6 separate regions of the Homo sapiens genome follow, and all the other regions are linked to region 1. Evidence: fine-mapped expression QTL. A gene starts in region 1. Each other region holds a variant in brackets. All regions are shown on one strand. Distances are between the middles of the regions. Region 1 holds the start of RYBP (RING1 and YY1 binding protein). Region 2 overlaps RYBP (RING1 and YY1 binding protein). Region 3 has its middle 100 kb from the start of RYBP. Region 4 has its middle 65 kb from the start of RYBP. Region 5 has its middle 110 kb from the start of RYBP. Region 6 overlaps RYBP (RING1 and YY1 binding protein).

Region 1 (5,308 bases):
GAGGTACAAAAAAAATACAAGAGGGCCAAGAAAAAAACATGGCAGTAACCAGTATCACAAAGGGATTAACCAACAGTTAACACACAAGACAGGATAGGATGAAAACCTGTCAAACTCACTTCTCCACATAAAACCTGTTCATAATGTAGGAAAACCAAAACGTTATTTGCATTCCAACCAACGATGACTTCTGAATAGATCTAAAACACCAAAATATTGACAATAACCAAAATGAAACCAACTGTGGCCAGCTAAGAGTGTCATGAATGCACACAGTTTTCAGTCCTCACACCTGTTAAATCTGTATTCAAATTCTATTAAATGACATCAGAAAATTACTCGAAGACCCTTAAAGTAGACGCCTTTCCCTGTTCCTGAATAGACTCTAAAATATTTTCACTGTAAATAATTCAGTAGTTTTAACTAAGTTTCAACAGTCATCTGCGGCTCTGAAAAAACTTTAAACATACATACATACCTTTTTTAAAAGTCAACACCTTCCATGTGCTTCCGAAAAATTGATGAGTAAGGTTTTTTAAAATACATGTTAAAAGCTGAAATGCACTTCATTATGAGATAATCATTCCCAGCGATAAATCAGACATAAACTTTTGAATTTGGTTTACGTTTCTCTTCACCAGTAATGTTCTCAAGTTCTTAGGAGTTTCCTAATCATTTACTTGAACACCATCTACGGTAACACTCAAAGCAAAACCACAATAAAGAGGTTTGGCCTCTGAGGGCTTCTACATGTAAAAAACATTACTCATAAATAATATACAATCACTACTGCTTTAAATAACAAATACATTTCTAAAAACTTTCATGCCATTTGATGGAATTCCCTATTTTAGACAGCAAAACAAAATCTATGAAACTACTGATGCGTGTTTTTTACTTTAGATATATTCCATGATAATACAAAACACCGACAAAAATTTCTTAAAACAACGTATGGAGTAATATTTTTAGTTTTTGATTATTTTTATTCAAAGGTATCATCATTTAAAGAGTGCAATTCACAGAAACAATAATTAGGCCAATTAATCTCAGAGTTAGATTATTTTAGGTTGCCCAATAATCCTATTTAATCCCAAGTATAAATAAACCAATGAAACCTTAACATGACATATTCATCTAATCAAAGAACAATATCCAGTTGGAACTGTGAAGTACTACTACACAGTCACACTGAAATGTCACCAATTCAAAAATAAGTACCTGATAAAATGAGACTTTTGGCAATCAACTGTAATGTTCTAAAGGATCCACCAAAAACTCATTCTTGTCTCACACACACACCCAATGCCTGTTCATTAAATGACACCAAGAACAGTTTAACTTCAAACTCTAACGCCAATGAAACAAATTCAGACATAAATTAAAAGATGACCAAAAGACTACATGAGTCTTGACATTTTATCCAAGTATTTATGAATGTTAAATCTAAAGTAGTTAACTCGTTTTAACATCACATGCAGTTTACGACCTTCATCAAAATGAAAAGGAATTCTTTCAACATTCTTTTCATCATCACAGAGCTTTAAACACAAACTTCCACAGTCACTGCTCATTTCACCATTTTACAAAATCGTCCCCCATCACCACCCCACATAAGCTAGTCAAAGAAAAAAAAAACTGACAGCTCAGTCTCCCACAAAATGCACTTACTTTATCAAATACCGACATTTATTTTCAAGTGCAAGAAAGTAACAGACATTTGCAGCTCAAGACAGGAAAAGCACAGCCAGCCTTACTACCCCCACTAAATTTCTCAGACAAGAGAAAAGTAACTCGGGACAGGCAAATTAAAACCATTCTACACATGGCAAAAATATAAAACATCTATGTCCTACAATCCATAGCGATAGTACTGCTTCCTCTCTTCCCCAGCCAATACCAATAAGCCAATAGACACAAGTGTCAAATAAATCCAGTGTCCGTTTGAAATAAAATGAAAACCTGGAAAAATTCCCTCCCATAAATCATTTAGCGAACACAAGGCTTTTCACCCAACACTTAATACACTCAACCCAAAAACACACACAACCCACCCGCAAATACAAAAAAAGCCGTAATCAACAAGTTGGAAAAAGGGCAGAAAGTAAGGCTCACTACCCTCTCACTTAAAAAAAAAAAAAAAAAGTCCTTTAACAAAAGGTAACACAGATCTTCAAGTACCTGGTGGAGGTGCCTTTCCTCACATCGCAGATGCTGCATTTAAAGGCTTCAGCACTGTTTCTGAAGGTGCAGACGCTACAATCCCAAAACCCTTCGTCTGCGGCAGGTTTCGCTTGTCTTTTTGGCCTTCCGAGGAGTGGAGAGTGGGGGAAAAGGGAGGGAAGAGGCAGGGAGCAGGAAAACGGGGGAGAGACAGCAAAACACAGACGCGGGTGAGCCGTCGTAATTTCGCAGGAATCCAGTGCTGGAAACTTCGCTCGGGAGACCACCCACCCACCCTTTCCGGGGACTGGAAGAGAGAGCGAGGAAGGGAACCGGGCGCCCCCACTGGCACCCTGCAAGCCCCGGGCCCGGGCCGGATAGCCTCGCACACCAGGCGGTGGCGGCGGCGCCCCGGGAAGGGCCGCGGCGGGCGCAGGAAGCGGGCGGACTTGTGGACTTGAGCGTGGGGCTGGGGGGGCCGGGAGGGGAGCCGCGGGCCGGATCTGGAGGGGGCGCGCAGGGGCAGCCCGAGGCCGGCGACGGGGAGTGGGCCGGCTCCTTCCCTCTCCACTCCCAAGCTCGCGCCCTCCCTCCCTCCCCACCTGGTTAAATCCATCACAGTCTCCGGACGAGACTAGTCCCCGCCAGCGCCGCCTCCGCCGAGTGACTGACGAGGGGCGGGGCCTGGCGCCGCGCGTCACGCGCCGTGCGGCCAATGGGAGGGCGGCGGCCGGCGCCGCGAGGGCGGAGGCGGGGCGCGGGGGAAGGCGGGGCGTGGCGGACGTGGGCCGGGCGGTCGGTGTGCGTGCCCGGGAGTGTGTGCGCGCTGGGGGCGCGCGTGCCTGTCGGTGGCCCCGCGGCCCGGCGCGGCGGAGCGTGCAAGCCCGGCGGGGCGCACGTGGCCGCGCCCGGGAGCTGGCAACTGGCTTCGGGCCCCGCACGGCGCCCCGTGAGGCTGTTGCCGGGACCCCGGCCCCGAAGCCGCCCCGGGGAAGTAGTTCCACGCAGTTTGCGCGCGCCGCGGGAGCTTGCAACAGCCTCACCGCTCGCAGCGCCTCGAGGCTTGCAGTGCCCAGGGGCCGACAAGGTCCACCTTTGGACCGCGTTCCCCCGCGCCCCTCTGTTCCTCTGCCATGCGGAGCTTTGTATTTGCCTCTTCTGAAGTCCCTGCGTCCGGCCGAGACGCTGGCCCGAAGCCCCACTCCCTGTCAGGCCCCTGTCGCGGGAGGGAACAGTAGAGAAAGGGCGTGGCATAACTAAATGCCCCCAGGCCAGACTCTGAGCTTCTGCTGGCGGACTCCTCCTGGGATCCTCCTCTCCCCTAGAGTCTAAATAGGGCGTTTCCTTAGGGAAGTTGCTATTCAAATTCTGGCGACCACATGCCCGCATTAAAACCTCGTGCCTCAGCTCCTTCATCTCCAAAATGGGGCTCATCCTCCCAGGGTTGTTTTGAATATTCGGAGAAATCAGGCATGGAAGGTTCGCTGATGGATGCCTGGTATTCACGAAGGACCAAAACAAGATATTGGGTATTAGGAGCTATTATAACTGGGCCTGAATTGTGCACCATTTCCCCCGCGTTCGATTTTTGAAGTCGAGGAACAGGGTAGTGCCCTTCACTTTCTGCCCTGCTCCAAAAACGCTTGCCAAATTGACTTGAACGTGACTCAGGACCCTCTGTCCTCAGGCAGGGAGATCTGGTAGGAGGACGACCCCAGATGATAAAAGACACAGACGCGGCTGTGCTGAAGCCCCAGGTTAGGGGAGGGACGGAGTCTTAGAATGCTGCTAGGAGTTGGGGCCCGGGGGTGGGGGGATTGGAGTTAAGACAGACCCTCAGCCAGGTTTATATGCAAATATAAAATAGGTTGTTATCAGGACTGCCCCATGGAAGGGAAGCATATCAGGGCTTGCCACCAGGGAAGCTCACTGAGACTGAGCACCCAGGGAGCAGAAATTCCTAGAGATCAGTCCAGGGATCAGAAGGGAGAGAATAAAAGAGAGAATGAATGTGTCAACAATAAGTTTGATCAGCACGCAGTGTCCTCTCCAGGCAGGCGCACCCAGGAGGGCCAGGAGAAGCAACACTGTTTAGCAAGGGTCAGCAACCTCTCAAGGCCTCAATGCCACAGCTGCCTCCTTAGGGGAGGGATGAAAGAAGGAAGAGGAAGAGAGAGGGATAGCGTTCTAGGGGTAAAAGGGCCGTAGAAAGCCAAAGGGTACGTACACAAGCCATGGCCCAGTGCAGCTGCGCCATGGAGCAGCCTTGGCCTCTGGTGTCTCCCTGGCATGCTCCCAGGACTCTGCCCCTGGCATGAAGGTCGTGACAGAAACGGGGCACTAAGAAATCCTCACTGGAAGAGTGGCCTCCGGGGAGGTAGCTGGGAGCCATAGTAGTGGAAAGGAGACTTTGTTATTATTCTATACATAGAATAAAATACACAAATTTTCACACTGCAGCTTAGTGCATACATCTACACCCCTCTTTCCACCATTAGAACAATAAAACATTTTATCCTCCCAATGAGTCATCCCTCACTTAGGTAACCACAATTCCGACTTCTGTCACCAAAGATTAGTTTTGCCTGTTCTTTAAGGTCATATGCAGGGGTCATATGGTCTGTACTCTTGTGTCTGGCTGGCACCTTTCGCTCAGCATATTTGTGATATCCATCCACGTTGTTGCCTACATCAATAGTTCATTTTTGTTTGCTTAAGTGTGTAGAATTCCATTGCAAATACACTGTAATTTATCCATAGGAGGTTGACTGTTTTAGTATGTCGTTTTGTATCTTTGTCTTGTGTTATCTTTTCAAAAAAGAAAAAGTTTTTAAAAATGTGTTTAAGAAGGGCCAGGCACGGTGGCTCACACCTGTAATCCCAGCAGTTTGGGAGGCCGAGTGGGTGGATCACCTGAGGTCAGGAGTTCGAGACCAGCCTGGCCAACATGGTGAAACCCTGTCTCTACTAAAAATAAAAAAAAAATAGCCGGGCGTGGTGATGGGCGCCTGTAATCCCAGCTACTCGGTAGGCTGAGGCAGGAGAATTGTTGGAACCAGGGAGACGGAGGTTGCAGTGAGCCAAGATTGCACCATTGCACTCCAGCCTGGGCGACAGAGCAGGACTCCGTCTAAAAAAAAAAAAA
Region 2 (5,308 bases), 37 kb before region 1:
AGTTAAGAATTCAAATGCAAGTCACGTATAGGTCAACTCCTTAGCTATTAAAATTGCCTAAATACAAATAGAGACACCTTGGATAAAAAGCCTGTGCTTTGTTATATAGGAAAATTGATAGCCAGTGTTAATTATCTGTACCAATAGGACTCTGCCCCCAATACTGGTTATATACACAGGTTAGTGTATATAATAATTCAAAACTAAACTCACCTTATGAATAGTTTTAGATTTCACTGGTTACTTGAGCTTATCTGTGCATCTGTTTTTGCTATCAGGCTGTTGCACATCTTTGATAACAAACGTTTACATTAAAGCATAAGGAGACTTTAACCATTAAGCAGGCAGTTTTACGCATGAAAAAAATCAAGACTTGTTTACCAAAATTTATCTCAAAAGTAAAAAATGCAATGTAATGTTCACTTCACTATTTTAAAAACAGATCCATTCCGAGGGCCAATTACAATTGCCACAATGAGAAAAATTAGTTCTCTCAAAGAACTAAGGTGAATCTGGGCCAAATGTAAATTACACCATCCTGGCACTATTGTTTGAAGTCACTTTCCACCGAAACAGTCTCCCATCAATGCCAGAAGTGTCTTTCAACACCTATCCCACTTACTGTCCATAAACTTTCCACAGCTACACTTGTACAGTCTTCACTGACCACGGTATACAGAGACAGATGTGAGAACAGGTTATTGGGCATCTTAACGCTTATACCACCTGTTAGCTAACAGTTGCACACCTGGCCTCTTGACTGAACTCTGTAACACGTGAATTTGTCAGCCTGACACAGATGCCATACGGAGCCTTAAATGAATGAACAGAAAAACAATGCTTAGCAAATGCCTTCAGTCTCCAAAACTTCTAAGTTCAAATATACATGAAATGCTTCTTTAAATCTGCGAAGAACATTACATCCCACCTTTTGATGACATAATTTAAAACACATTTTATTCATATATTTATTTCCTTCCCAAACACAGTTACACTTTGAAAAAAAGGATGACTTACATATGTCTTCCAATAGAAATCTTTGTTTTAACAACAGTAAATTCTTAGAAATGTGTTCTGCTCCACCATCACCATTAAAGCAATGGTATGACTTTATATTAAAGTATTAACTTATAAATCAATCTCTGCGCTGAAATAATGCTAAATTGCTTTATCGTACATCAGGCATCTTTTTCAAATACATTCCTTTTCATGCAGTACATATAAGTTATTTCTATAAACTCAGCAATTTAATACTTCTAAACCATTTCCTCCACTTTATTTCATCCAATTGATACAGCTTAAAATACTAAACTACCACTTCTTCCTAAAACTTTTTTTTAAAGTAATAACCCTGTTTATACTGGTTTGAGTTCAATTGCAAGTTAGAAGTTATTACAATTTCCCTTTTGGAGATTATGAGCTAAACCTATGAACACCAAAAAACATTCAGAGCATACAAAGCAAAAATATTTGATGCATGTGCCTATAGTCTGGATGTGGTCTGTCTCCACCAAAACTCATGTTGAAATCTGATTTCCAATGTGCCGGTGTTAGAGGGTGGGGCCTAGTCAGAGGTGTTTAGGTCATGGGAGGGATACCTAATAAATAGACTATGCCATCTTGTGGGAGTGAGTTCTTGCTCTCACAGGATTGGATTCATTACTCGAAGAGTGGGTTGTTCCTTCTTGCACATGCTGGCTTCCTTCCATTTTCTGCCATGAACTGAAGGAGCGAGCACAAGACCCGCAACCAAAGGGGCTGCCCAATGTTGGACTCTCCAACCTCAGAATCATGAGCCAAATAAAATTCTTTTCTTTATAAATTATCCAGTCTCAGGTATTGTTACAGCAACACAAAATGTACTAAGATGCACACTAGAGAGTACAGTCAGTGGATTCACAGTGGATGAACTGGCAAAGCAGTTATAGCAGTATGTTGCAATAAATCATGACTTTCTATAGAAGAAGCTGAACACTTCTTGATATCGTAAGAATCTACCTGATTTAAATCTCTGGGGCTGAGGGGAGGAAGCTGACAAGATGCTGTAAGGCATTTCAGAAATAAATGTAATTACGAAGAAGGTTTGCAGGTAGGAATTAAAAACTTAAGTGACTCGCTCTATCTGTTCTACAGAAGGTAAAGAAGTGTGAGAGAAAAAAGTGTTGTCCATTCAATAAATGTAGCTTTGAAATGTAAAACAGATATAATGTGTACAGCCAAATATTTGAATAAAAGCTTTATTTTCATTACTTCTTTGGGTGGTTAATATGGTTAAATTACTCACTGACGTGGGAAGTTAAATTACTACACACAGTTCTTAGTTTTACTTTCAAGAAAATTCAACTGTTACTTTCCTCTGCAAATTCAGAGCTTTCACAATACAC[T/TGC]GCCACTACTCATTCATCAGTTGATCTTTTAAAAATAGGTAATAAGCATTATCAATTGTGACCCTTCTTCACAGTATGACCAATGTTCAATGTAACAGAACAAACTTAAAAGTCTGACTAAATCCTTCAGTAAATAATTAAAACAAAAACAAGTAACTGTTTCCAAAAGAAGGAAAACCAGCTTCACCTTTGTGTTCCGCTGTTTGGTGCCCTTTGAATGTTTCGTTCTGGGTTTTTGTTTTTTGTTGCTTTTTGAGACGGACTCTCCCCCTGTCACCTAGGCTGGAGTGCAGTGGCATCATCTTGGCTCACTGCAACCTCCACCTCCCGGGTTTAAGCGATTCTCCTGCCTCAGCCTCCTGAGTTGCTGGGACTACAGGAACCCGCCACCACAACTGGCTACTTTTTTTGTATTTTTAGTAGAGACGGGGTTTCACCAACATGTATGCCAGGCTGGTCTTGAACTCCAGAACTCAGGTGATCCGCCTGCCTCAGCCTTCTAAAGTGCTGGGATTACAGACATGAGCCGTCGTGCCCGGCCACTGCCATTATTAATACTGCAAAACTTTACTGTAAAATGCCTACCTTATACAGCAAACGTGTATCAACAACTCATTCAACATTCAACCAACATACATTAGGTGTTGACAAACCTAACAGTCCCTGCCCTCCAGGGATGGATAGAGATAGGAATGGTGAGGCAATTCTGTAAAATATTGTTTTTAAATGTGATAGATAATGATTTTAAGTGCAGGTACTGCGGCACAAAAGAGGGAATACCAACCTTGTGCTGGCAGTTGACTAAGGGCTACACAAAGGAAGTGACTCTTCAAGTTCAGTGAACTAGGTGAACAAAGGGAACATCCCTAACAGAGAAGAAAACCTATGTAAGGTGAGAGACAAATAAAAAGTACAGGAATTCCAAATAATTTGAGCAGCCAAAGCACATTACTGCCTGTGAAAGAAAGGACTACAGGCGGTTCACTAACTATTTGGGTTACTGAAAAGCCAAAAGCATATGCCAGGTTATGTCTTAAAGTACTAAGAACAACTCTGCAGGCAGTTTTGTTTTACATTTGTAAATCTGAATGAGAAATAATATCACAGTGTACTCTCTAGGTCCATGGCCTTTCTCAGTCTGAACCACAGAACACCCAAAAAATGACATGAGTGATTATTTTCTCAATTCTTCCAACTATCTATTACAACTAGTACCATTTTGAATGCATAGGGGAAAAGGTAACTGTCTACAATGGAAGTCTTGGAGCAGGAGGGCTAATTCTCTCAGAGCTGGTTAAGAAAGGCTGATGGGTATAAGAACTCTTTGCAGTTACCCAAATACTGAACACACAGAACTCTATCTGAGGTTTGTGCTCTTATCTGAAAGCTAGTAAACAGTAAGGAACTTTCACTGTGGTTACAAAAGAAGTAAGGTACGCTATTTTCCACAATCTATAAAAATGTGCAAATAATTTAACTGTTAAGCCTTATCAAATAATTACTTATCTTTTACTCTAAGCTATTTAGAAATTTTAAAGTATATTATAAACCATACAGACATCTCAGAGTACAAACCTAAGGACATTTTACACACATATAAGGAGAAAGAGAAATCAACTTTAGCCCAGAGAACAAATTGTAAACAAACAAATAGCAAAGATTAAGGATGAGTCAGCCAATTCATAAATCTGTTACAAGAAGCCATCTCAATGTTTATCTATGGAAACCAATGTTTAAAAAAAGAAAAAAAAGGATCCCCCATATCCCATGAAGCCATTTCATCAGTGACAAGAACTACAGATGCACCTTAGATGTGCTAACAGCCACGATCTGCAGGGAGGTGAACAGTAAAGTTGGTTTATTCTTATCAGACTCGAAAGATTCAGAAGGGTTCCAAACAATCCTCTTTCGCAGCTATACTAATGATGAGAATAAGAGACAAGAGATACTACCTTTATATTGCACCAAATGAGATTCCATTATTTGTTAGCAGGTTTAACTTTTTATACACATTTTATGCCCACATGAAGTAGAGCAGCCTAGAGCTGAGGTAGTAGCACAAGTCTCCCAGTCATATCAGCATTCCTTCCCCAAATGCCCTCCCTCCCCACTCCCAAAGACACTAATAAACAAAAGTGTCAAAGAATACTCTTCAAAAACAGAAAAGCAAAAAGCATAATTAGTGCTGAATCTTGTAAGGAAAACCTAATTAAACCACACAGTGAAAATGCAGCTAATGAGGGCAAAACTTGTTATGCTTGGGGAAGAATTAAAGAAGGAAATCAAGTCCAGTCACCTGTTATCCACATTTCTTCAACAGCCTGCAAAACATGCTTCCTGATTTGTAACTGAGGGAAAACATCCAAATCAGCTTGGGCAATCCATTCAGTTTATTAGGCTATGCTTGATAAGAGGACAAAATCAGACTACCTACATAGCTACATGTAGCTCTTTGCTAACTAACTGTAGCCTAACCAAAAGACTGTGGTTAACTCAGTAGTACCTATCATCACCAGAGAAGACTTGAAAACACTCAAAATCCATTTCAGGCAAGCTCCAAGATAATGTATGTTTAAAAGATTATAACATGCTTATTAAAACACCGTCCTTATTTTCCATATTAGCACTTCTGTGCATCAACTATGCTGGAAAAACATTGTGTTAAGTTAATGTCTGCATGAAGCAGGTGCTTCATATGTTACATCAATCTCCACATAACTGTGTAAAATACAAAATAAAAGAGATACCTTCCAAAAAGGCACAACTAATTCTCTGATGGGAATAATCTTGCAGCAGAGCTTATATGTTAATCCACCAGCACTCCAAGTCACTCACTTTCTCCCTCACAGAGTTTTCATTTAAGAAGCTTCGCAGTAAAGCACCAATGAAATCCCTATTAACTTCTTCCCCATCTTACCACCAGT
Region 3 (5,308 bases), 100 kb before region 1:
TCTTCCAACTTCTGGAGGCTGCCTGTGTTCCCAGGCTCATGGTCCCTTCCTCGGATCCCTCCAACCTCTTGCTTCCCTTGTCACATTGCCTTCTGTCCCTCCAGTCTCCTGCCTCCTTCTTAGAAGGACCTTCGTGATCCCCCCTGGACGATCGTCTCTTCTCAAGATCCTGAGCTTAATCACATCTGCAAAGTGCCCCCTGCCTCAGGGCCTTTGTGTGTGCTGTTCCCTCCACCCGAAATGCTTTTCCCCGAGACATACACATGGCTCATTTCTTCGCCTCCGTCAGGGAGCTGCTCATATGAAACCCCTCGCCCCATGCTTGACTTTTCTCCATCCACTCATCACGAACTGGTGTATTAGAAATTGATGTTTTTATTTATTTTCTGTCTCCCCACAGGTATATTATAAACTGCAGAAAGACTGGGACTTTATCTATCTTGTTGACTACAGCCTCCTCAGCACCTAAATCAGTATCTAGTATCTAGCAAGAACTCAAAATAAATAATGAGTGAACAAATGGGGCTACTGAAACTCAGAGAGGGGATGTGACTTGTCCAAGGTCACAAATTATAAAGTGGCAAAACCAGGGATTTGAACCCAGGTAGGCCTGACTCCAAAGCCTTAATGGTTTGGCTCAATGACGCCTGTCAGCCTCTTAAAATTTACTTATGTGGGTACCAGGCCTTCAGGCCCTTCCCTCTGCCTTCTCCTGGTGGAGGATGTGGGCTCCTCTGTGACTCACACTAAGAAATAACACTGAGAGAAATCGTAATAGTTTCTCTTGGCCCAGAGCATTAGATTTTACAAGAGACTGAGGGCACTGCGAGAGCAGAGAGCCCACCTGTTTCACTTGGCATTGTCTAATCAGTACTAGACACATAGTTGGCACATAGTTGGTGCTCATGAAATCTTTGTTAATAAATGATGAATGACTCTCACTTGATTGCACAGAGAAGATCTGCTCTATATGTATCTATTCACCTATTCATCTATCATATGTCTAGCCATCCATCCATCCATCTTCTATCTCTCTGTCTGTCTATCCATTCTTCTGCCCATCCATCCATCCATCCACCCACCCATCTATCTATCTTATCTGTCTGTTTCTATTTTGTAGCAGTTCCTAGACTCACAACGTTTACCCAACCGTGGGATATTCAACTGGAAGAACACAGAATTCTGAACAAGGTTCCCCTTCTTCCCAAACTGTACCATGGAGGTCTTTGCTCTGGGAGAGCAGGCTTAGGAGACAGTGAACTTTAGGAACCCCCATTTTTCTACTCGAAAGTCCTAGCCTCATTCCCTGCTTCTGTGCCCATCCCTCTTGCCTCTGTCCCTCTTGGTTTTGTGATCGGTCCCACCCAGAAATGCCTTAGGACTAGGCCTCTCCCACCTCCCCTGATGCACCTGGTCTCAGAGGTCAGGGAACATAACAGTGACCCTGAGGACACAGAGGTGAGGAAAAGGCCCCAGGTTACCCTTCCTGCCTTTCAGCCTGAGCTGTGCCCTCTAAATCAGCCAGAACATGTAGACAAATGTGGTCTCTTAGACTCCCCCATACACCTACCCACATTTTCCCCACCCACGTCTCTCTTCTGTACCTACCTCTTCCTTCCCCAGGTGAGATTTTTGAGAAAAACTGAACCTTATCCTTCTCTATAGTTTCCTTCCTACCAAGTTACTGGAAAGAGAAGTCTTGAAACCCCCCCGTGTTGGGAGAGGAAAAAAAGCAAGAAGAAGGTGTAAACAAAGATTAATTAAACCTCATATGCAACCCAGAGGAACAGCCTAGGGCAGCTGCTGCAGCTGGAAAGATATTCCCCAAAGGGGGACAGGATGACAGGAGGGCCACTTGGGCTGGCAGACAGGATGTGGCAGACGCTACATTGAAGAATAAAGTTTCAGGACAAATCTTGCCTTTGAGCAAGATTTGAGGAAGATATGTTGGCACACCCAAGGAGGAAGCTCTAATTCATGTCACTGTAGGATTCATTCAACTCCATACACAGACATTCCAACCCACCACTGAAGTACTACAATGACCAGCATTGGTGAACTATACTCACTCCAAGTCTTTGCTTTATAATTGTGATGATCATCCCAGCTGGATGTAATAATAATTAGTGCAGCCACTAGTGTTGTTATGGCCACTGAGAGTCGACCACCTACTACGGGCCAGGGCTCCGCGCTCAGAACTTTATTTCTATTAACACTCAGAAATTTCACAACATCTCTATGAGGTAAGATGTGCCTGTTCTACAGATGAGAAAACTGAGGCACAGAGTTAAGTCACTTGCCCTGGACCACAAGACTCTTCTCATTTCCACTTTACAACAGAGGTCAGCAAAGCACAGCCCCGCAGGCCAGGCCAGCCACTGCCTGTTTTTATAAAGTTTTATTGGCACACAGCCATGCCTGGTTGCTCATGTATTACCTCTGGCTGCTTTGGGGCTACAACAGCAGAGTAGTTACCGCAGAGACTATATGGCCCCCAAAGCCAAAAATATTTTCTTTCTTTCTTTTTTAATTGAGACAAGGTCTGGCTCTATCACTCAGGCTGGAGTGCAGTGGCATGATCTCAGCTCACTGCAACCTTCGCTTCCAAGGCTCAAGCCATCCTCCCACCTTAGCCTCCTGAGCAGCTGGGACTACAGGCACTCACCACCACGTCTGGCTTATTTTTGTATTTTTTTAGAGACAAAAAATGCAGGTTGCCCAGGCTAGTCTCAAACTCGTGAGCTCAAGTGATCCACCCGCCTTGGCCTCCCAAAGTGCGGGTATTACAGGCATGATCCACAGTGCCCGGCCAAAAGCCAAAAATATTTTCCATCTGCACCTTTAGAGAGAAAGGTTTCTGACCACTGCCCTAGAATTTATTCTCTGCCGGTCCCCAAAGGGATCTTTAAAAATGCTGACTCAAGTCATGGCACAACGTGTTTAAAATCTTTTGAATAAAATCCAAATTCCTTCCCACAGCCCAGGAGGCCAGTAGGATTCAGTACCTCTCCCACTCTCACCCCCACTGAGTACATTCCAGCACTGGACATTTTTCCATTTATGAGCTGGGCTCTTTCTAACCTCAGGGCCTTTGTGCATGCTGCTCCCTCTGTCTGGAATGCTTTTCCTCCAGCTCTAGGTCTCAGCTCAAATACCACTTCCTCTGAGAGGCTTTGCCTGACACTC[T/C]CCATCCCCACACCCAGTCTATTTCCTTTCTAGCAGTGATCACAGTTTTTGTCATTGTTTTATCTGTCTAATCTCTCTGGGCTGCAAGCTCCTGGCGCTGTGTTCCTGCTGCTCTATCACATAGTAGGTGATCTATGAATATCTGCCAAGTGAATGCAGCACTGGCATCCAGGCTATGGGACTCCCAAGTCACATGCCTGATGCAGACCCTCCTCTCCTCTCTTTCTTCCCCGCACTGCATTCAGAAAGCAATATTCATCAAAGTCTACGGAGGAACTAGATAACTCCAAAGAGGTGGATAAGCAGGCCTCCGCCCTCAACAAATTCCCTGAGGACCAAATCCTCCCAGTTCAGCCCCTTTCCTCCTTCTTCAGAAATGGATGACCAGAGCAAACAGGCCCCCACAATGGCTGCCTGGGAGCAAGCCGCTTCCCCAGAAAGACTCTTGCTGCTCCACACCCGGGCCCCGTCAAAGATGCCCCCAGTCCTCATCCCCCAAGGGGCCTCAGGACATAGCGAGGCTTCCCTGGAGAGGGCAGCACTGCAGAACAGGGATTGGTGCCGAATAGGGACCAGATCCAGGTATAGTGGGTTGAACGGTGGCCACCAAAAAGACATGTGTAAGTCCTAACCCCTGAAGCCTGTGAATGTGACCTGATTACATTTGAAAAAAGGTATTTGCAGATGTAATTAAATTAAGGATCTCAAGATGAGATCATCTTAGATTACCTGTGTGGGTCTTAAATCCAATGACAAGCATCCTTTTAAGAAAGGGAAGAGGTGAAGATACCAACACAGAGGAGAAGGCCATGTGAAAACAGAGGCAGATATATTGGAGTGATGGGGCCACAGCCATGGAAAGCCTGGAGCCAGAATCTGGAAGAGGCTGGGAAGCATTCTCCCCCAGCGCCTTCGAAGGGAGCGTGGCCCTGCTGACAACTTGGTCAGACTTCCGGCCTCCAGAACTGTAAAAGAATACTTTTCTGTTGTTGTAAGCCACCAGTTTGTAGTTAATTTGTTATGACAGCTACAGGAAACGAATACACAGGGGAAGAGCGAACTCACCTCTTGCTTCAGCCCATGAAGAGCATGCTTCTGAGAACCACAGAATTTTCTGCTGGAAGGAACAGCAGAGCTGAGTCACCCGACATTGCCTAAATCCCAGCATCCCGGCCCCACCTGACTGCTGTTTCTACTTCCACTCACCACCCTGCTGCTCTTCCCTTAGCATTTGCCTTCTAACTGACTTAACTTTTTCTTACTCAAATGTATTTACAGGCTGGGAGCCATGGTTCATGTCTGTAATCCCAGCATTTTAGGAGGCCGAGATGAGCGGATCACTTGAGGCCAGGAGTTTGAGACCAGCCTGGCCAACATAGTGAAACGCAGCCTCTACTAAAATTAAAAAAATTAGCCTGGTGTGGGGGCTATGAATATTTGTTGAGTGTAATCCCTGCTACTCAGGAGGCTGAGGCACGAGAATCACTTGAACCCAGGAGGCTGAGGTTGCAGTGAGCCAAGGTCGCGCCACTACACTCCAGCCTGAGCAACAGAGCGAGACTCTATGTCAAAAAAAAAAGCCATATAAAATATTTACAAATAGAACTTTATGTCACTTATCAGAGGGAGAAGCAGCACCGCATGCATTCATTCACTCCATCCTCTTATTCTGTCAACGAAACATTTATGAAGCACTGACTGTGAATGGGGCAGTATTTAAGGCTCTGGAAACACAGTAGGGATGAAGCAGACAAAAAAACCCCGTCCTTGTGGAGCTTGCATTCTCGTGCAGAAGGGGCTGGGAATAGCTGCTGACTTGTCTATAGCTATGAAGATTAAAAATATTCCTTGGGGCCAGTCATGATGGCTCATGCCTGTAATCCCAGCACTTTGGGAGGTCAAGGTGGGAGGGTCACTTGAACCTAGGAGGTCAAGGCTGCAGTGAGCCATGTTCATGCCACTGCACTCCAGCCTGGCAACAGAGCAAGACCCTGTCTCCAAAAAAAAAAAAATTTCCTTGGTTGGTATGTCCCCTGATTGTGACCCCCACGTGGGGCAGTGCTCCCAGGGAGGGAGTTGAGGGCAGAAGCAGCATGGAGGCAAAGGCCAGGGTTTGAATTCT
Region 4 (5,308 bases), 64 kb after region 1:
CCGTCTCAAAAAAAGAGCTTTTTACAAGTGACCCCACACCCCTTGTCTAACAGAAGGAGAAACTGAGGCTTAGAGGGGTTAGATGACATCCCATAGCTAGATAGTGGCAGAGGAAAACAAACCCAGCATCTAATACAAAGTATACAAAAACAGGAGAATGCTTAGCACATGGCGAATGTTCGATAAATGTTATTTATGTTGTTGCTCTTATTGCTGTTATTATTATTATTATTTTCTTTTACCATCCATCTGGCTCAGAATACTGTTATTATTATCTGACTTAAGAGTAAGTGCTCTTAACCTTGTGAAAAAGTTTTCCCATGTTTAGATGATGTCTCTTTCCTATCCATTTCTCCACACTGTGCAAACCAGGAAGAAGGATTGAACACCCAGGACATCTAATCTTTTCCAGCTTAAAGCAATCTTCCATTTGCTGGTTCCTCAGAAGAAGGACTGTCTAAATCCTCAGAAATACAGTGGAAATGAATCCTTCAAAAAGATCACCGAGGGAGAGCAGAGAAGAACAGGGGACTGGGGAGAATCCATCAGGAGGAGGAGAATCTTCCAGACCAAGGTTGGCAAACCACAGTCCCCAGCCCCATTCCGGCCCAGTCCACTGTGTTTGGTAAATAAGGTTTTATTGGAACACAGCCACACTCATTCATGTATGTATTTATTACCTATGCTGCTTTCTGCACTATAACAACAGAGTTAAGTAGTTTCAAAAGACAGCTAAAATATTTACTATGTGGTCCTTTACAGAATCGGTTTGCCAACCCTTGCTCTAGGTTGTGGAGAGGAGAAATGTGGGCTGGAGAGGGTTTGTGATCAGCTGGGTGTCTGTCTGTCTTTTATTGTTTTCTGGATGCTCTAGGAAAATCCAGCTAAGAGTTGCTAGGGGCCAGAATGAGACACCTTACAAGAACTTTAAGTAAGGAAGCTACGGCTCTCCACCAAAGTTAAGCTTTACGTCTATTTGTGATGGCTCAGAGCTGAGACATGCAAAGTCCTCTGAAGGTCACTGCATCACTCCAAGGTGAGACGCATGTGACTCTCAGTGGATCAAGGTGATGGCCTATCTCAAGAGAGACTGACTAGTCAACAAAATGGGGTTTGGTCAGCCTTGTTCACTGAGACAGAGCAGAGGTTATTGTTGGCACGACTCCATTCGGGCACTGGTCCAGGTGAGGGGAGGCCTCCAGTGGATGGAATATCTCAAGTGGGAAGACCATTTCTACAAGGCCTTCTATGTTGAAGGAGCTCTTAGCCTATTGTCCTTGAACAGTCAATCACCTACACAATGCCCTTGTTGCAACTCCACGATCTCGAAGCAACCTTCTGGTTATGACTTGGCTCCTTCCCGTGTAGGTCTGCCAATACCCCATATGCCTGGACGGGTTTTAGGGTGACTGAGAACTCCTGAAATTGTGTGTGCAATGTTGGGTATATGTGAGAATGCACATTATTAAGGACGAGGTCCCCCATGTTTGTTAGAGTCTCAGAGACAATGAAAGTTTAGAAAAGAGACCCAGCATTTATCTGTGTGAATGTTTTAATTAGGGCTTCCTTCCACCCTCCAACTGAGGGCAGGAACTCTGTCTCAGACACCATTGTTCCTCCGGCACTCAGCCCTGTGCCAAGCTCATAAGACATGCTTACTAAGTATTTGTTGCAGCAAGAATGGAAGGAAGAAAATAAAGAGGAGAGGCTGGGGACAATGGAGGATGGGAGGGAGGAAGGTTGGGGTTGGTCATACAAACATGAGTGTTCAGGTCGCTGGGATAGAATTTTCATTGTAATTTAGGAAACTGACCTTCTGATTTATACAACAGTCTCGTGAGCATGGTTAATGGATTTTCCCTCAGGCATAGACCTGTTCCTGGTGTGCTGTCAAATCAGGATTCTTAAGCCTGAAAAGTTTATGGCCAGAGCCTGGACCTGGGTGAATGCACAAGCAGGTCTCCTCAGGAGACAGACAGCTGGCTTTTCCCCAGGTGGAGAAGGAGGGCTTTAGTTTTCCTGTAATTGCATTTCTACTGCAATAATAGTGTCTGCTGTCTTCTCGCAGTGCTGGGGACATTCAAAGCCAGTGTGCCAGTGCCTAGGACAGTGCTGGCACCCAGTAGGTGCTCAGCAAACATTTACTGTGCAAAGGGATGTTGTGCTATTTTGGGTAACTGATAAAATATAGATTTGCACAATTGTTTTTGCAATTACAGCTAAAAACATGATTGAATAACCCACAAGCTATAGTCTGCAACTACAGACATTCTAAAGTAATAAGGCTAACAGGAATTCAAAAAACCAAATCATTACTAGTTTTGAAACACAGTGTCCCTAAACAGACACGAGAGCCTAATGCCCAAACCAGCCCTCCTGCCTATGGGGTTTTCCAGGCCTTGCTTGACACCTTCTAGATGGTAGCAGTTTACAACTTGGTAGGCAGCAGCATGGAGCCTTAAAAAAGAACAATTTCAATTTAAGATTTGGTTGAGGATTTCTAGATACTTAGTGAAAATTCATAAAGCTGCAAAGTACTGCTCCATGACAACTGAAAGATGGTCATGTCTCCCGTTGGTGACTTAGGTAGATCTGTATCTTATTCTCTCATTCCCTTCTCAGGGCACACACACACACTCACATACACACACATGCGCATACACACAGCTTGATTTCTTCTGAAAAAAAAAAAAAAAAAAAAGGAATACCTGTGTGGTGCTATATTATTTATCTATTTCTGTGTAACAGTTTACCCCAAAACTTAGCAATGCAAAGTAACAAATGTTGATTATCTCAAACAGGCTCTGACGGTCATGAATGCAGGTGCAGTTTACCTGCGTGGTAAGGTCTCCTGAGCTCTCATGAGGGTGCAGCCAAACTGTCCGCCAAGGCTGCAGCCTTAGCAACGTTCAACTGGGGCTGGAGGAGCTGCCTCCAAAACCACTCATGTGTTTATTGGCTGGCCTCAGTTTCCTGCTGGCTCTTAGCCTGAAGCTTTAGTTCCTTCCCGCATGAGCTACTATATAAGGTACTTATACATGGTTGCTTGCTTCCCTCAGAGAGGAGAAACAGATAGACTGACCAACAGACAGACACACAGATGGACAGGGTCAGAGACAGGAAAGAGAGAGAGAAGTTGCAGCTTTTTATGACTTAATTTTGGAGGGGCATACCATCACTTCTCTATAGGCCATTGGCCACACAGACCAACTGTGATACAGCACAGGGG[G/C]GAAATAAACAAAGGTGTGTCTATCAGGAGAAGGGGACCACTAGGGGCCATCTTGGGGATCACTAAGGGCCACAAATCCCTTGACATTCCTCCCTGCAAAAAGTAGAAAACGAATTTCCTTCCCTTTGAATAAGAGCTAGACTCAGTGACTTTCTTGTTACAACAGGAATGAAGTGGAAGTGATTTTGCACAGATAAGGTCATAAGAAGCATCGCGACATCCATTTTTCTCTCTTGAATCACTCTTTCTGGGGGAAGACAGTGTCCGTGTTGTTAAGACACTCAGGCAGCCCTATGGAGAAGCCCATATGAGAGGAACTGAGGCCTCCTGCCTTACCAGCTGGCTGGTCATAAATAAAACATCTTAAAAGTGGATTCTCCAACTGGCCAGGCACAGTGGCTCATGCCTGGTAGTCCCAGCACTTTGGGAAGCGGAGGTGGATAGATCATTTGAGGTCAGGAGCTCGAGACCAGCTTGGCCAACATGGCGAGACCCTGTCCCTACTAAAAATACAAAAATTAGCCAGGTGTAGTGGCGCTTGTAATCTCAGCTACTCAGGAGGCTGAGGCAGGGGAATCGCTTGAACCTGGGAGGCAGAGGTTGCGGTGAACTGAGATCTCGCCACTGCAGTCCAGCCTGGGCGACAAACTGAGACTCCATCTCAAAAAAAAAAAAAAAAAAAAGCAGGGTGTGGGGGGGATCTTTCAGCCCCAGGCAAGCATTGAGATGATTGCAGCCCTGAGTGCAACCTCATGAGAGACCCTGAGCCGGGCCACCCAGCTAAGCTCATCCCAAATTCTTGACTTACAGAAAATGACATGATAAATATTTATTATTATTTTAAGTCATTAAGTTCTGGGGTCATTTGTTATGCAATGATAGATAATACAAAGTGCTAATTGAATTTCAGTGTTCTTAGCTGCAAATAACGGAATCTGCCCTAGTTAGTTTAAGTAGACAAGGAATGTGTTAAAGGATCTACGTAGTTCACTGAGTTCCTGGGAGAACTAAAGGATGAGGCTTGGAGCTACAAAGCCATGACTCTTCCAGTGGAGACCCTTCTGCTGCCATTGCTGGGCACAGACCCCCTATATTCTAGTGACAGAGTGCTGCCATTTTGCTTCCGTGAGCTGGATGTCTCCACCACCACCACTTGTAAAGAATGAACTCCGCATGGCACTTACTTCTAAACCAAAGCCTGTACAAGAATTTGGTCATATATCTGTTCCCTGGTACAATGGTTCATTTTATGTGTCAACTTGGCTGCGTCATTGTGCCCAGGTATTTGGTCAACCATTATTCTGGATGTTTTTGTGAGGGTGTTTTTGAAGGAGATCAACATTTAAATCAGTGTACTTTGAGTAAAGCAGACTGCCCTCCCTAATGTGGGTAGGCCTCATCCAACCAATTGGAGGCCATAACTGAACAAAACCTGATCTCCTCCAAGCAAGAGGGAATTCTGCCAGAAGACTGCCTTTGGACTTGAACCGTAACATTTTCTCCTTCCTGATCTCCGTAATTGCGTGGGCCAATTTCTTAAAACAAATTTCTCCCTCTCTCTATCTACACATCCTATTGGTTCTGTTTCTCTGGAGAACTCTGATTAATACACCTAGTTACAAGGGAAGCTCATTAAGTGAGTTTCTGGCTTAAGCACGTTCAGACCCATAAGAAGAGAAATTCTACAGATATTGGAAAGGTGTCCTAGTTGCTAGGTGGCCACAAAGCCTAGCTAATATCCACTATACTTGTTATGTTAATAGTCAAACTGGCAGGATGCAGTGGCTCAGGCCTGTGATCCCAGCATTTTGGGAGGCTGAGGTGAGCAGATGGCTTGAGCCCAGGAGTTCAAGACCAGCCTAGGCAATATGGTAAAACCCCATCTCTACAAAAAATTACCTGGGCATGGTGGCACATGCCTGTGGACCCAGCTACTCAGGGGGCTGAGGCAGGAGGATTACCTGAGCCTGCAAGGTCCAGGTTGCAGTGAGATGTGATTGTGCCACTGCACTCCCGCCTGTGCGAGTGAGATGCTGTCTCAAATAAACAAATAAATAGCCAAACATCATAGCAATCTTT
Region 5 (5,308 bases), 110 kb before region 1:
TCCTCCAACCCAGTGGAGCTGCCTCAGCTTCTGTCACATGGGAACTGAGAAAAGCCCTCCTCTCCATGCCCTGCCCAAATTGCAGATTTATGAACAAAATATATGATGTTGTTGTAAGCCACTGAGCTTGGAGGTGGTCTGTTTGCAGCAGTAGATAACTGATTCAGAGAGGATAAGGGGCTGCCCAAGGTCACACAGCCGCTCAGTGGAACCCAGTCTTGAGCCAAAGTCCCCAGCATCCTGGGGTAATTCTCCCTTTCACAATCCCTATTTAACAGACAGAAAAGCAGGGCTCAGAGAAGTTAAGGAAATACACTTAGCTTAGAAGTTAAGGTCACGAAGCAAGTGTTCTGGTTTAATTGTGCTCTTTCTCTCAAAGATGTGTTGAACTCCTAAACTCCAGAACCTCAGAATGTGACCTTATTTGGAGATAGGCTCTTACGGAAGTAATCGAGTTAACATAAAATGATTAGAATGGGCCCTAATCCAATATAACTGGTGTCCTTATACAAAGGGGAAATGGACAGAGACAGACATGCACAGAGGAAGACAGTGAGAAGACACCAGGAGAATGCAATGTACAAGCTAAAGAACGCCTGAGGCTACTAGACGCTAGGGGAGAGGCATTCTGGGAAGGCTTCTTGGAGGAAGTGACGCCTAAGTCCTGAAGGATGCATAGGAGTTAGCTGAGAGATGATGGGAGGGAAGCATATTCTCTGTAGAGGGGGCAGCTTGGGGTTCCGGGAGTCCTGCTGTAAGGACTGAGAAGCTCGCAGGCAGTAGCTGGAATGGTGTGCGTGGCAAAGGCCTGGGCTGGAGCAGTGCCCGGAGGCAGGATGAGGATGGCCTTTGTTAATTCAGCAGGCAGGCCGTTTGGATGTCATCCGAGGGCAGTGGGGAGCCATCTGCCTTTTTCTTCTGAGCCTTGTCACCCCAGCGGGTGTCCTCTAAGAGCATTTCACACTGTGGCCTGGCCCTCCTCCTTGGAGCCTGGAAGTGAGAGAAATGGTGGGTTTGTGCTCAGCAGGAGAGGAGCTGTCTTTGCAAAGCCCCCTCGGGTCTGGGAATTAAGGGCTTCTGCTGCCGACTTCCACCCTGCAGCCCTTCAAAAAGTGTCATCACTGCCAAGTGCAATTCCAAATAAAGAGACGCCTTCGCAGAGCCACCTGCGGGTTGAGGGAAAGCTGGAAGGCTGGGGGGCATCACTGCGAGGCCCTCGAGGGCTGCTCACAGGAATCTCTCCTAGGGGGTGGCCCCAAGCTGGAGTCCTCTCGCCACCAGCCCCAGAGGCACTGGGTGGAATCCTTATGTTGTTACTGTTAATAGAAAGGGTTTCTGGATAAAGACACCCTCCTCCTACCTCCTAAGGAGCCCAGGGCCTGTAGAGATTGTCATTAAGATTGCTGTTATCGACAGCAAGGTCCACATGATGTGGAGATTTGGATGCTGTTCTTCTGCGGCCTCCCCTACGCCCATAAAAGATAGCTTCTCTGTGTTTCCCAAAGCCTTCTCATACATTCCTTTCAGATATGAATTCCTCAGCCAAACCAGAGCTTTGGAAGTGTCCCTGGGGCCTCCCTAGTCTGAGGAGTGCCTCCACCCACCCACCCCAGCTTCTGGAGTGCCTGTGCTTCCACCAACATCCACTCAACTCTTCACCAATGCAAAGTCAATGAATGTTGTCAACAAACATGTCAGGTAACCAGTACAAGATAGAGCAGAAGCTGGGAACCTGGGATAACTGGGGCATGGAAAACACCTCCCCACCCTCCCCAAAGGCCCCAAAGATGCACATGTGGCTTTCAGTACCAGGGCAGGTACCATGCCACCCTATGGGCCTCAGGAAGTCAGCCAGTTCTGGCTCTTCCACTCACTACCTGCAGCTTTGGGCATATTACTCTAACTCCCAGAACCTCAGTTTATTCCTCTGTAAAATGGGTATAGTACGGGCACCGACATCATGGGGCTACTGTGAGGGTGCAGGGTGATAATGTCAACAGAGCACCCAGCGTGGTATTGGGCACTTAGGAGCCCTCGGTGACTGGAAGCTGCAATAGGGCAGGGGGTCATGGAGCCAGGTGAGAGAAGGGGCATGGAAAGAAGCTTCTAGAACCCCCTGTGGCCTGGCCACCAAATTGCCTGGTGGGAACAAATGAGCCCCAAGTCGGCAGTCACAGGAGCTACCAGATGCTGCCCTGAGCCCTCTCCACGTGTTCTTCGTTTCATCATTACCCAGACCCAAGCAGGTGGGCTCTGTTATCCTCTCTATTTTAAAGAAGAGGAAGCTGAGGCTCCTAAACCCCAATTAATGTGCCCAATGTGATCACAAGGCTAGTAAGTGGTGGAGTCCAGGTGCCAGAAAGAGGTCCAGAGAGCACCTCTGCCTAGAGTGTGGCCCGCTCGAGCAGAAAGCAGCCCCAGTCAGCCTGAGATGAACAGCTCTCCCCTCGGGCTTAGAACTCCCAGCTGCTTCTCTGAGCTGGACTCCTGCCAGTGTTCACCCAGGTAACGGAATTGCCTGGGGAGCCCTGCTTGACTCCAGGGAAGCCGGCGGGGGGGGCCCCCAGGCAGAGAAATGAAGTGAGCAAGACACCTCCCGTCCCCAGCCTTCCCCCGCTCATCCCTCTCCTCCAGAGGAGCTGGAAGGAGGAGTTCCTGCAGAAAGAGTCCACACCCAGGAGGACACTGTGCTCGGGCTTATGCCAGGAGGCC[G/C]CCCCCTACCCCAGCAAGGGCGGCGACAGGAGGCGGAAACCCTGGGAGCAGAGGGGGAGGGGCCGGCCCAAGGAGTGTCTGAGCGCCTTCTCCCAGGCTGCCTGGAACAGGATGTTCCAAAACGAGGAGGCTAGCCAAGAAGCAGGGCGTGTGTGCGTGTCTGTGTAGCGTATGTGTGTGTGTGCGTGGTGTGCATACGTGCATGTGGTATATGCATGTGTGCATGTGTGGTGTGTGTGCCCTGTGTTGTAAGTGCACGTGCACGTGGGAGGGTGTGGTGTGCGAGGGCTATGTGTGAGTGTGGTGTCTGTGTGTGACGTGTGGCATATGTGATGTATGTGGTGTGTGTGGGTGTGTATATGCATGTGGTATGTGCACATGCACACGGTGTCTGGTGTGTGGCGGGGAGTGTTTGTGTATGTGTGGTGTGTGTGTATGTGTGGTGGGTGTGGGTCTGTATGTGTGTGATGTGTGTGGGTGTGTATGTGTGTATATGTGGTGTGTGGGTGTACGTGTGTGGTGTGTGGGTATGTGTGTGGTATGTGTGGTGGTTTGTGACTGGTGTGTGTATGTGTGTGGTGGGAGTGTTTGTGATTGTGTGGTGTGTGTGTGGGGGGGAGGGACTGGCACTGTGGAACACCAGGACAGGATCTGAGTGTGGGTGGGTTAGGTTCACCTATGTAGAGCAAGGCGGAAGTGACGAGGAAGTGGAGGAGCAAGAGGAGAGGGAGGAAAAGGAAGGGGGAAGCGAGGGAGGCAAAAGGAGGAGGCCAGCGATTGCAGGGGTATCTCATACTCTCACTCTCCCCTACCTGGGGACAGCAGGGGTGTTGGAAAGGGCACTGGGGGTCCCTGCTCTGAGAAAACCCTCATGGGGCATCCAGGTGGTGGACTGGAAAACTGTCCCAAGGGTCTTCTGCCCTCTCTCCATGGCCGTCAGCCCCATGGCCTCTCTGGCTGACAAGTGGGTTCCCCTGAACTCATATGTCAACTTAATTGCCTCCCCCTGCCCCTATCCTTCCTGATGAATAGGAGTAGCTGGCTGACTGGGGACCACTTATTCTGGACATTGCTGAAGAGGGTCAAGGCATGCTTTCGGTTTGATCTAGGGTTTCTGTCAGTGATCGCTAGTGATTCATGTGATACTGTAAGAAGTCAGTCAGGGCCTTGGTGTTGACAAGGTTAGATGATTGATTGACTGACTGACTGACTGACTGACTGACTGACTGATGGTCACTGTGGGTTTCACTGTAGCTGGCTGGCTGTGATCTGGACTGACCAGGCCATGGACTGTGGGAGCTTGTGACTATGACTGGGCCAACTGCAACTGGGCTGATGGATTCAGTGGATTGAACATGACTGGTGAGGAGACAGGTTGACAAGGAGACCAACTCATTGACCACATGCATGATGGACTGACTGGCCAGTTGATGACAATGGGTTTGGTGTATGGTTGACTGGTTGGTTGTTTAATTCAAACTGACTGGATAACTAGGCAGCTTACTATGACTGACTATTGTGACTGCCTGCCTGGCTGACTGAGGGAATAACTGAGTCAGTGTGACTGGCAGGCTGATTCAGACTGACTGGATGTCTGGATGACTATGATCTCCTAACTGATAGCCGTCAGTGATGATCTTGACTGACTGACTAGCCGGCTCTGGGATTGGCTGTCTCTTCCAGACTGACTTGGTAACCGTGGGTCTGACTGTGACCCCTGCGTCTTGACTGACCGCCTTGATTGCATGCCTGACATTTTGAGATCAACTGACTGGCTGGTTGCCTGGTGTTTCATTGTGGCTGTGGCACAGCCTACGGCTACCTGTGACTAACCATGAAACTGACTACACCCAACTCACAGGACAGACCGGGTGGACTGACCACCTGCCTTAGTCATGGAAAACTGACTCTGGCTGACTCAACTGCCAGAGACTGACTGAGATGAACAGGCCAGCCAAGAGACAGCTGGGTGACTCGTGGTGAGTGGCTTTGTCTGACTGGATGGCTGTGACAATGTAACTGAGTCTGGCTGTGAGACAATAACCTGTGGATTGACTGACTTGAATGTGTTGACTGGGTGGCTGAATCTGATTGGCTATGTGGGTGACTGATGACTCCTGGCTGACTGGCTAACCCTGCCTTGACTGACTGATTGATGGGCTGACAGATCGAGTTTGACCAGGCAGCAGGAGACCTGCTGACCACGGCTGTGACTCACTGTGTGAGCGGCCATGTCTGACTGTGTAACACAATCTGACCAAGAGACAATGACTAATTGACTGACCAACTGACTGAGATTGGCTGGGTGTCTGACTGACCAGCTGTGACTGCAACTCCTGATGTGAGTGGGCGTTGACTGGGTGGCCCTGACTCGTATAGGCAAGTCTGGCTGTGAGACAACAGCTAACTCCCTGACTGGCCCAGTGTGCCAACTGGCTGACTGCTTGAGGCTGGCCAACAGACCAGCTGACCGTGCCTGGGACTCACGGTGTGCGTGGCCATGCCTCACTGTGTGGCCCTGGCTGTGTCTCGGAGTCTGACTGTGAGACAAGGGCAGACTGACTGACTTTCCTGGCCAACTGCCTCCAGGTAGCCT
Region 6 (5,308 bases), 70 kb before region 1:
ACAGACCCATTTTCAACTCAACATCCTGCGCTATTTACACTCTCTTCCTTCCAGTGCTAGTTCAGGTGCAGACCCAGGACAAAATAATCGGGGATGGATCTTGACATGTTTTAAGTGGTTTCTTAATTCTTTGGAAGGTTATAGACTGGTATGCCTCAGCACCTGCAGCAGCAGGCAGGAGTCTCCCTCGCATGGGGCAATAAGTGAGCTTGTGTGGCTTTTAGGTTAGTAACACACTTTATTCACATCTCTGAGACATAGTTGACCTAAATCCAGTTGGCCAGAAACAGGGGTTGTCTTTTGAGGATTTTCAGTCCTCAATTAGCATATTTTAGCATCATCTCCATTTTCTTTCCTTAAATCCCATTTCCTTCCTTTACATCATTGCAATCTATCTCAAAGGTTACACTTAGGAGACAGTTCATTTTCTTTCAAATTTTGGTGATTCTTTTGCCCCATTATGTCTCCTTTTGCATCTTTGAGGTATGTACTTAAGATACCCAGCTATTTCAGCTTCTGATAAACAAGTTCTAAAATACAAAGTGAGCTTCCTATTCACATTGGAAATATTCCACAGATTAAAAATTAACTATTATTCTAAAGGCTAAAATCTATACACACAAAAATAAAGATTTCCAATGTAAATTTTACTATTTTATTTGTGAAAAAACTACAAGCAGAATTCATAAATAGACATTTCTATTTAAAGCAGGAAAATGATAAAGTGGCTTCTAATAACATAGTCGTGCACATGCCAGTAACAGGAATATATTAACATCTTTTATTTGCTAGACAAAGAGCAGTGTCCAATATAAATTTCCCCCAAAACATTTAAGACCTGTGAATTTTTGACCAGTTCACAAAACCACCAACTGACACTTTAGCATGAAGAAAAAAACAAACCTAACAGACTGTCAGCTCTAAAGACATTACAGAGCAGAAACTTCCAAAAGCGTTATACAAGCTGTCTTTCTGGGCAAATGAAAAATATAGCTCGTATAATACATTAACAAAAATTCACAAGATAAGATTGTTTTGACATACTTAACAAGCATTCTCTATTTGTCTCCAACAAACAAAGCTAAGGAAATAATGTAACCATCTTTACACAGTAAATTAAGGTTACAAGTCATACACAAGAACAGAACTGCTTGCGCATTAAAAACTGTTCAGCTCCATTGTCATACTCTAAATGTTGGCTCTTAAACCATTTTCGGTTACATACAAGCAAAGGTTATTATATATTCAGCAATTAATAAATTTTCAATAATTTAAGATACGGTAGCTTAAAAAAGTAGACTGAGAATGGTCTTGATAAGGCAGGTGAAACATCTTAGTGGAACTAAACTCACAGAAGCTTCTGCCAATGTTTTTAAATATCCAGATTGAAACTGAAAGGTTTTGATTAGAATATTGTGTGGGTGTCAAGATGTCTTTTTTTTTGTAACTGCATGACTCAAGCAGAGCAAGTCAGGTAAGCTCTGTGTGCGCGCACACGCACGAGTGTGAAAGATTGCGTGGTATTAAAACAAATGGAAACTTGCAAGCGTAACACTGTGCTTTTTGTTTGTTTAACCTGCTTTCTGTGCCACTGAATACCAAGTATTTCTGGTCCTCTTTTAATGTATATCTTTATAATCTACACTAGTGTTTTTACACGCTGCCTACTAATTGTAGGGCATACTGCAGACACAGGAAGTTACAGGAATTCCATTTCCAGAATACATGCCTGAGGGATGTCATCAATTTCCAAAATTAAAAGTCTATAAAGTACCTACTACCTCACTACCCAACAGAATACACCACAGCAGCTAAAGGGCTGGCCCTGTAACATCTGATTGCTTAGATAACTCCCACTGTTAGCTGCGGTTTCTACAAAGATGGTAATTTCATGCCACTTGTTCTAAAGCAATCTTCTTCCCCTTCCTTCACCCCTCCCCATTCTTTAATTTATCACGGAGGCAAAACTGAAAAACCAAAACATTGGCATGAATGAATTAGCAGCCTATGAGTAGCTGGTTAATCAGCTTTTTCCACTAATCTATGGGGTCCAATCACTTTACATGAAACTAGTTTTTGAAAAAGTACACAGTGTGTCTGAACAAAGTGCATACCAACAGTTATTGGTTCAATAAGCAGTGCAACCTACATGAGTTTGGTGGCATTTAAGTTTTTTCAAAAAGTTAAAAACAGCAATTTCTTAAACCTCTGGAAAATAAATATGGCTGACTAATTTACCCTCCCTGAGACCCTTAATAAAAGGAATATTAAAACTTTAGAAGGAATGTCTTTGCAATATCCCACCAATATTAAAATGTGGATTTAAAATTCATAGTCAAATCACTATGTATTATATATTCTGATGCTTATAGAAAGCATCTGATTTCCTTTGGTTCATTAATAAATACTTTAAAAATGTATTTAAAAAGATAAGCAAAGCTTGCATCCCAGACACAAGCATTATTTTAAAAAGGGGGGAACATTGTCCATGCATTTGAGAATAGGACCACAGCAACAAATGGCACTGCTTTATAATCTATACCTTTGAGAAAAGAATTTAAATTATGGTACATTAGTGACTACAGAATAGTTTTAATGTAAATGTGAAAGGAACCTTTCCTGTTGGCTACTCAATTCAAGCTGTTAATTTTTTTATTTGTTGCCTCCACAGACAGAAATTACTGCTATTATTAAGCAAACCAGGTTTTTAACACCAAAATGTGGTGCTTCATTACAAATCAGGCTGCCCTCCCGTGAGTCCCTAAAGGTCAAATAAAGAGAGGTAACCTCAAATTCTCATGCTTGAAATGTCTCTGAAGTACTACAAACTCTGTATCTAAATGTAAAAGTCAAATAGAAGAGAGACCCCACATCCAAACAAAAGCAAAACAAAATTTTAAAAAATTATTTTAATAAGGAGAGGTGGAATCTTATTAGTGGTCTTTGATTATTTTTTTT[T/A]TTTTTTTTTTTGCAAGACAGTAAAAAGAGTGAAGAGAATGAAATAGAACAGTTTACTCAAGCTATCTTTATGTCCAGGAAGAAAAAAGATTACATGCTGCTCGCAGTAAGTACGAGCTTTCCCTGCAACTCTGGCTGCAGGCGCGCAAGCCGTTCACCACTGGAGTTCCTACCACAGCAGGGGATTGAGAAATGTCTCCAAACACTGAAAAGCTCCATGTCAGGACTGGATGTGTGGTTGATAACCTTTGTTCAGTAAAACAAATCATAGTAGGTTTTGAGAAGGAAAAAAAGAATGCTCACAACTGAATCGGTAGAGTGAAGGTTTATCAGACAAAGGGACATGAGGCAAACAAATTTTAATTACAGAAACCACCACTGCAATGTCATGTAGAAAGGAGAAACAAGGGACTAGCTTCCTGGATGGACCAAAAATACAGTTTATAGACTGTTTCAATCCTAAAACTAAGACAATTTCTAGATTTACCTCAGACATGAGTAGAGGTCTGGAAAATGGATGGAATTCAAGTTACAGAATACCATATTTTCATGAGTGCTTATGTAAGAACAGCAAATGATAACATGTAACCGTAATTTACACGAATACTTGGCATTCTGGAGCTACTTTAGTTACTTTTGAATGATCAAAGCCCTGCCCAACTAAACCACTTGTGATTTGTCAGTTATTCCATTGCAAATGCAGGCTATCTGGAGCAGTCTTTAAATTTGAGATCACATTGTTTAAAAAATATATATTTTTATATCGTCCAGTACTCTTTAGACAGATGAGAGAGTCAAGTTCCCACATGGATTGGAACATACTTCATATAAGACTGATTTTAATTAAATTTCAGCACTTTCATAGAAGGGACTGTCCCAGATCTGTAACTGTTCAATGTTGTATTCACTTCACAGTGTATCAAGCACCAGCGTTGCCATGGATTGGTTTCAAATAACCCTTTATATATAATTTTATATTTATATATATATAGTTATATCAAAACTGATAGTACATAGTATAACTGGAAGAAAGAACTAAACTTAAAAGGATATGCTGAAAGGATGGAGTTTGTGAACACAATAAATAAAAGTTCCCTCCCCCTCCCAGCCCTCCCCACCGGCAACAAAACAAAAACAAAAAACCAGTTGTAATGTACATGGAAAATTGTGCACAGCAGATTTTTTTTTTTTTATAAAAAGTAGATTCAGGAGCACATCCAATTATAAATGATTGTTAGGAAAATCATATAAAACAATGGAATACATAAAAGTGTCAAGAGTAATCGTCAGGGTGCGAAATTCCTTGGTGGCCAGATGCCCATGGCAAGCAGAAATTATCCTGGCAGCATCACTAAGAGGTCGATGTCCACAGAAGATTCTCCAGGGATGCAAGCAGCATGGGCAGGTGGAGGTTTTGAATTTCATACCCTGATTCATAGTTTTCACAATTCCATGTGCAATTTCAGAAAGATTCATCATTGACTGCTGACATGTCGCCCTTTGGCGTGGAGGAACGGGAGGAGCCCTTGTCTGTGCTCTCTGACCCCGAGCTGCTCTGGTTCTGCTGTTCTGACCCTGCACTGGAGGTCACTGTGGATGAGGATGTCGATGAGGAGCGAGTCTTTTCCTTAAAGTCTGTGATAATGACGGTGACGTTGCCCACAGTTACTGCCAACTGCTGTGCAGTGCTCCTGTCCACGTTTTTCAGCCGGGGCCTAGAAGCAACACCACAGGGGAAGAGCCAATTAAGTAAGTTATGGATCAAAAACAGCTTCTGGCAGAATATCATCAATACGCACAAGACTTCATGACACTGTGGCAATGAATCCGAACTGCCTACCACACATGCCAAAGCCGACTACAGAGTGTGCTACTCAGTTTTAGCAATAATCCAACAAGCACGGATAGCAAAGCTTGGGACCAATGTAAAATTACTATTATCTGTTTCCTGTTCTGGCCACAGTATTTAAAAAAGAGAAAAAGTCACCAGCCCCACCCATACTTAGCTCTTCACCTTCTTAGCCTACAAACCCAAGGCACAAAACCACCCTGGATTCATGATTACGATTAAGTAAATCAGAGCAGTGATTTAGTATGTCATTCTAGTTTCCAAGTACCTTGAGGTGTGATTTGTTTCGCTGGTCTTTGTTGTAGCATTTGCAGACTGTATGCTGTTTGCTTCACTAGGAGGATCTTTCAGAATGTCAGACTTTGGTCTAAATGAGGGAGATACAAAACAAACAAACAAACAAAAAAAACAGGCATTTAGAAGATATCTTGAATTCACTTGCAAAGTAATATCCTGTACTTAGTTAACCAGAAACTTACTTGGTTTTCTTGTTGGTATTTT

The links. PIP is the estimated chance that this variant, and not a neighbour inherited with it, causes the effect.
Region 2: its variant is fine-mapped to the expression of RYBP in whole blood (INTERVAL, PIP 0.97).
Region 3: its variant is fine-mapped to the expression of RYBP in T cells (TOPMed, PIP above 0.99). The same link has a PIP of 0.9 or more in CD4 T cells, blood mononuclear cells, naive CD4 T cells and whole blood.
Region 4: its variant is fine-mapped to the expression of RYBP in esophagus mucosa (GTEx, PIP 0.97).
Region 5: its variant is fine-mapped to the expression of RYBP in unexposed skin (GTEx, PIP above 0.99). The same link has a PIP of 0.9 or more in sun-exposed skin.
Region 6: its variant is fine-mapped to the expression of RYBP in B cells (Fairfax 2012, PIP 0.95). The same link has a PIP of 0.9 or more in CD4 T cells, CD8 T cells, monocytes, monocytes after LPS, monocytes after interferon gamma and neutrophils.

What each region holds. Positions count from the first base shown.
Region 1 is chr3:72,444,315-72,449,622 of GRCh38, forward strand. It overlaps RYBP (RING1 and YY1 binding protein), which reads right to left and starts at 2,309. Exons shown (of 4, transcript NM_012234.7): 1 at 2,182-2,309. The coding sequence starts at 2,309. RefSeq lists silencers at 2,626-2,685, 2,746-3,155.
Region 2 is chr3:72,407,244-72,412,551 of GRCh38, forward strand. All of the region lies in intron 1 of RYBP (RING1 and YY1 binding protein), which reads right to left. Among named protein-coding and RNA genes, the nearest start is that of RYBP, 37 kb to the right of the region's middle. The variant T/TGC (reference allele first, on the strand shown) is at 2,385.
Region 3 is chr3:72,342,515-72,347,822 of GRCh38, forward strand. No RefSeq gene overlaps it. Among named protein-coding and RNA genes, the nearest start is that of RYBP, 100 kb to the right of the region's middle. The variant T/C (reference allele first, on the strand shown) is at 3,187.
Region 4 is chr3:72,508,547-72,513,854 of GRCh38, forward strand. No RefSeq gene overlaps it. Among named protein-coding and RNA genes, the nearest start is that of RYBP, 65 kb to the left of the region's middle. The variant G/C (reference allele first, on the strand shown) is at 3,230.
Region 5 is chr3:72,334,377-72,339,684 of GRCh38, forward strand. No RefSeq gene overlaps it. Among named protein-coding and RNA genes, the nearest start is that of RYBP, 110 kb to the right of the region's middle. RefSeq lists an enhancer at 567-1,133 and a silencer at 5,025-5,134. The variant G/C (reference allele first, on the strand shown) is at 2,713.
Region 6 is chr3:72,373,965-72,379,272 of GRCh38, forward strand. RYBP (RING1 and YY1 binding protein) reads right to left here. Exons shown (of 4, transcript NM_012234.7): 2 at 5,287-5,308; 3 at 5,076-5,174; 4 at 633-4,673. The coding sequence ends at 4,421. Among named protein-coding and RNA genes, the nearest start is that of RYBP, 70 kb to the right of the region's middle. The variant T/A (reference allele first, on the strand shown) is at 2,959.